Regions from separate parts of the Homo sapiens genome. Here region 2 is linked to region 1. Evidence: fine-mapped expression QTL. Tissue or cell type: monocytes. Region 1 holds a variant in brackets; the other region holds the start of a gene. All regions are shown on one strand. Distances are between the middles of the regions.

Region 1 (2,684 bases):
TTTAAGACCAAACACATATCTCCCATAGCTGTCTATCACACAACAACATAAAAACATATTTGAAAATATTTATAACACAGAGAGACTTTTAGCTACTGACTTCAAAACATTAGAAAATAAAGATCTTGTAAGAGAATTCAAGTAAAGTCAAATGTCCTAAAACTTACCTGAGTTAAATGATTCACTTGTAAAGGGAGGTGTTGACCAGATTTTAGGTAAGTGTACTAGATTTTAGATAACTCTTAACAGATGTTAATTTATATACTAAAACTAAATATCCAAAATAATCCAGATGTCAGAACCGTGGACATAGGAAAATACTGGGTCTAGGAGGAGCAATATTTTGATCATCTACAGTCCCACTGTACAATATGGTAGCTACTCACGTCTGTGGTTAACTTTGAATTAATTACAATTTAAAAATTAAAAATTCAGGCCAGGCACAGCGACTCACAGCTGTAATCCCAGCACTTTAGGAGGCCAAGGCGGGAGGGTCACTTGAGGTCAGGAATTCGAGACCAGCCTGGACAACATGGTGAAACCCCATCTCTACTAAAAATAAAAATAAAATTAGCCGGGCGTGGTGGCGCGTGCCTGTCATCCCAGCTACTCAGGAGGCTGAAACAGAAGAATCACCTGAATCCTAGAGGCAGAGGTTGCAGTGAGCTGAGATCACACCACTGCACTCCAGCCTGAGCGACAGAGCGAAACACCGTCTCAAAAAAAAAAAAAAAAAAAAAAATCAGCTCCTCAGTCACGCTAGCCACATTTCAAGCGCACAATTGCCACATAAGGCCGGTGACTACCATGCTGGACAGTGCAGCTACGGTACATTTCCAATACCGAAGGAAAGTCCCATGGCCCGCGCTGCTGTGGGGAATCGGAAGAGGCACGCCATTCCCGGGAAGAACAAAAACCTCCTAGAGAGGCTTAAAAAATTTGCCATTAACACGGGGAAAAAAATCTTCTATTTCCATTCCTCCATCTTATTTTCTCACCTCCTAGACAATGTTTCTTTTTTTTATTCTTTCTCTCCCTATTTTCTCACATTTTTCCTGCCCTTTTTTCTTATTTTTCTCTCACTGCTTTTTCTAACAACAAACATGCAGTCCATCTTTAATGATTTGATGCATTTCTTTAGGGTTTTCAAAATTTCTCAATGTTAAAATGTAAGGAGCTGAATGAACATTATTTCTAATGTGTTTTTTTTTTTTT[T/A]AAAAAAGCCATATTTAGAGGAGACTGTTTTTTAAGGTATGTGACCTTAGGTGTGTTTCCCCCACCTGAGAACATTATTCTTCCATAGAAAGGGTTTCTCACCGTTGGAATCCGGGGTGAAAAAAAATTTGCAATTCTAGTTCCGGCCTCTGGGGTTTCCTTGCACCGGAGGCCGGGCTCAGTCCTCTGGGCCGCGAAGTGGGCGCGGAACCTCTCGGTCCGCCGAACTCCTACCGCCACCTAGCGGAAGGAAGGCGCAAGGGCTTCTTCGTCACTGACGGTTGCCAGGCAACGGAGGCACGGCCCGGCCCGCGTTAAGGAGGAGGGCGCAGACCGAAGGACACTGAAAGAGCTGTAACAACCCCACTTTCGATTGGTTGAAGAGCTCTCAGCCTTCTCATGAGCCAATGAGAAGAGGCACGCGGATGGCGTCAGACGCTATGCGACTCCTCCCACCCACGCTCTGGCAATGCGATTGGAGACCGCGGAGGCCTACGTCGGACCCGGAGGCCCTGAATGCCCCATGCGCACCCCACAGCTCGCGCTCCTGCAAGTGTTCTTTCTGGTGTTCCCCGATGGCGTCCGGCCTCAGCCCTCTTCCTCCCCATCAGGGGCAGTGCCCACGTCTTTGGAGCTGCAGCGAGGGACGGATGGCGGAACCCTCCAGTCCCCTTCAGAGGCGACTGCAACTCGCCCGGCCGTGCCTGGACTCCCTACAGTGGTCCCTACTCTCGTGACTCCCTCGGCCCCTGGGAATAGGACTGTGGACCTCTTCCCAGGTGAGGGAAAACGTTGTGGGGGTGGAAACTTACTTCTGAGATCTAAAATTCTGTGAGCAAAGTTGAGCTGCCACAAAGCAGGAGTGGGGCTGTCGGAAGAAGGAGGGTGAGCACCTGGGAGAGTTTGGGGATCTTCATCCCACTCACTCTGTGTCGTACTTTCATAGTCTTACCGATCTGTGTCTGTGACTTGACTCCTGGAGCCTGCGATATAAATTGCTGCTGCGACAGGGACTGCTATCTTCTCCATCCGAGGACAGTTTTCTCCTTCTGCCTTCCAGGCAGCGTAAGGTGAGCTTCGTTGCTCAGACTGAATCCTAAAGGGGTTTGGGGCCTACAACGGGTAACATTTGGATGTAAGAAGAGTTAGTCTTTGTGCCTCCCACCCGTACTTCCACTCCTAGGACATTCCCTTGGTTTTTCCTAGGAATTGCCTTTTCTGATTCTCTAGAGCAGGGCTGGCCAGTAGAATAAGACCTTCGTGTCGTCCTATAGGTGCCCAAGGAGTCCTCTTTGGCATCATCTGGCCGATATTGCTGGGACACTCTTTTTTGGACCTGCCCCGCCCCTTCTAAATATATCTTCTCCCTCCTCTTTCCTCACAGGTCTTCAAGCTGGGTTTGTGTAGACAACTCTGTTATCTTCAGGAGTAATTCCCCGTTTCCTTCAAGAGTTTTCATGGATTCTAAT
Region 2 (2,684 bases), 62 kb before region 1:
GACCATAATAACAATACCTGCTTCTCATAGAGAATGGCCATGAGCACCAAATGAGGAAAATGTATGTGAACTTGAGTGCAAAGTACAAATTCCTTCACAGACTTAAGATTTTACCAGTATCACTTCCCCAGTAGCTTCAAGGATTTGCAAACCTGAAATCCACAATGTCAGGGCACCAGAAAAAGCAGAGAAACAGTATTGGGGAGTGGAAAAGCCCACCAGCCCTGCCTCAGACCACCTCCATCCACACTCAGCCCTTACTAACTATGAGATCTCAAGGCAAGTTATCCTCTCAGTACCTCAATTATGCCATCTGGAAAATGGGAATGTCAATGATAGCACTTGTAAGGTTCATGTGACAAGTAAGTAGCACATGTAATATGCTAGGTATAGCTCCCAACACAGAATAAAGACTTAGTCAACATTAACAGCTATCATTATTGTAAGTATTAAGAAATATGTTGGCTACTCATGCTATTCTTCCATGTTCTATACGGTATAAGCATGTGGGAATGTTAGAAGTTAGAGATGATAAAGAAGGAGGAGAAGGAGGTTTACAACCCTATACTCCCTCACTGCTGCAGAGATTCTTCCTGGCTCTCACACGCTGGCAAGCAGCTGGCTCTCCGTCTTGGCAGAAAATGCCCAAAAGAGGTAAAAGATAGAGACTGCACACCATCTGTGCAAACCAGGCTGCTCTTGTAGTTTTTAGACAAAATCTAAATGTAGTCAGATGTGACCTGCCCTTTTAAGATAGAATTATTCTATTTCCTCCCTCTACCCGTCCCCGTCCCCCACTCTGTCCCCCACATAAAACTCCCCCACATATCTCAAGAAACTTTCAGCATTTTGAAAGACATACTCTGGGGTCCTGTTGTGACAGCCTTGTGCCACATTAACTTCTCTGTCTTGTTCCCAGCAAAGAAGCCTTTGCTAATTTCACAACAGGAAAGCATGCAAGAAATTCGAGAACAAAACAAATCTACACGCAGAGCCCAGCATCTTCAAGCAAACACCCTGAGGTACAGACCCGAGGCTAGATGAGTCCGGACTGCAGATGAGGCAGCTGCCTCTTAAACTGCAAGGGGACTGAAAAAGTCATTTGCCTCTAAAAAAACCAACTCTGAATACAAATTGATAATGAATATTCATGAGCCCCTCCAGCTTGCTCTAGAGCCACCCTTGACTGCAACCCTGGACTCTGCTTCCTAAAAAGTTTCCCAAAGCTCTTTCTCTGCCTCCTCTCAGAAGGAAGAGGGTGGGAAAGTTCATTCAGGGCTTTTTGCCTCCAGCTTTCAAGTACTTGCTTTTTGGTCTGGGCTTTTATTTTTCCTTCTATTTTTTTTTTCTTAAGGATTCAGATCAAATCAATTTTGGTCTTACCCTTTGTATCTTCCATAAGTAGCAGCTTTTGTTTTCCTCCTCTTTCCTCGTCTTTCCCCCCCCCAGCCTCTGCTTGCTGTGGTCCGTCTCCGTGAGAGAGGTCCTCAAGGAAACAGAGATATAACAGACCCTTGGGCTCGTGGGAGGGGCTAAATTAGCCGGCCCCGTTTCGGAAGGAACCTCAAACCCTGTCTTTTTCATTGACTAGAAAGGACAGATTGACTGAGGAGTCCAGCAGCTCATTTTCCTAAAGTTACTCGAAGCCTTTTCCAGGTTGTAATTTTTTGCATCCTTGAAGCAATGTATATTCAAATCTCTCTCTCTTTCTCCCTTCTTCCCTCTCTCCCTTACTCCCTCCCTCTTCATCTCTCTCTCCCTCTCTTCGTTATAGAAATCCCTTTTTCTCCCTTGAAAAAGTCATCTCAGCTGCAAGCAAAAAAAGCTATTCCTTACTGCAATTATGAAGCTAGATAATAAGAAAGTTGTTACCTTGAAACCCGCTCGAAAAACTGAAAGTCAAGAACAGTTCTTCCCTCCCCATAAAGCCTCTGGTCCCATGACCAGCAATCCTTTCTCAAGGCTCATTAGAGCAAAGAGCAACAGGTGACCCAAGCGATGAGTTTCCTGCAGGAGACGCTGCGTTATTGGTTGGAAGGCTGGGTGGAACCACAGAGGAGCTGCTCAATGGGAACCGCTGCCTGGCTATGAATTGATGAAAGTCATCCACCATTTCCCAACTTTGACTTCCTACCTTTGAAGTCTAATGAGCATGAATTACCACATCCAGACCGTCAAGATTACCCCAATGTAGATGAGAGCCTGACCAAATTATTTTTAAACTGTGTAACAAAATTATTTTGAAATCAAAACAAGGGCTAATCCTTTGAAAGGAAGGTAAGTCCTCAAGTCCCAAGGCGACTTGGCAGCTTCTCCCTCCACAAGGCTGTTGCAAACCTTAGCATTTCAGGTCTGAAAGATACCTCAGACATTGAGTCTAAAAGAGGTTAGAGATGTGGAGAGGTTAAGCCACCTGCTCATGCTCACATACATGGTCTCTCTTATTTGCTACCATGTTCCCCAGCACCTAATACAGTTTCTCTCACAGCATGGGCTCTCAATAAATATTTGATGAATGGTTGAAAAAAATGAATGAATTGCAGCAAAGCAGAAATGTAGATCTGTTTTCCTGTTTCCTAGTTCTTGATTTTTCTACATTGCTTGTCTGGCATGTAAATTTGTATCTAAAGCCAGTTATACCATATAAATCATTAAATTTGTGAGCCCGAAGGACTGTTTTGACT

Direction of the effects. Alleles are on the strand shown, and positions count from the first base shown. SD is a standard deviation of normalised expression in the study named.
For the expression in monocytes of the gene that starts at base 1,476 in region 2, allele T in region 1 goes with a lower level than allele A (moderate effect, 0.45 SD a copy in Fairfax 2014).

Evidence for each region. PIP is the estimated chance that this variant, and not a neighbour inherited with it, causes the effect.
Region 2: ENTPD1 starts here. The variant in region 1 is fine-mapped to the expression of ENTPD1 in monocytes (Fairfax 2014, PIP 0.95).

Annotation. Positions count from the first base shown.
Region 1 is chr10:95,692,954-95,695,637 of GRCh38, reverse strand. It overlaps TCTN3 (tectonic family member 3), which reads left to right and starts at 1,711. Exons shown (of 14, transcript NM_015631.6): 1 at 1,711-1,994; 2 at 2,162-2,285; 3 at 2,600-2,684. The coding sequence starts at 1,739. It also overlaps a transcript of ENTPD1 not described here. RefSeq lists enhancers at 751-1,252, 1,727-2,006. The variant T/A (reference allele first, on the strand shown) is at 1,216.
Region 2 is chr10:95,754,955-95,757,638 of GRCh38, reverse strand. ENTPD1 (ectonucleoside triphosphate diphosphohydrolase 1) reads right to left here and starts at 1,476. Exons shown (of 10, transcript NM_001776.6): 1 at 1,384-1,476. The coding sequence starts at 1,399. ENTPD1-AS1 (ENTPD1 antisense RNA 1) reads left to right here. Exons shown (of 6, transcript NR_038444.1): 6 at 925-2,684. RefSeq lists a silencer at 226-285 and an enhancer at 1,616-1,915.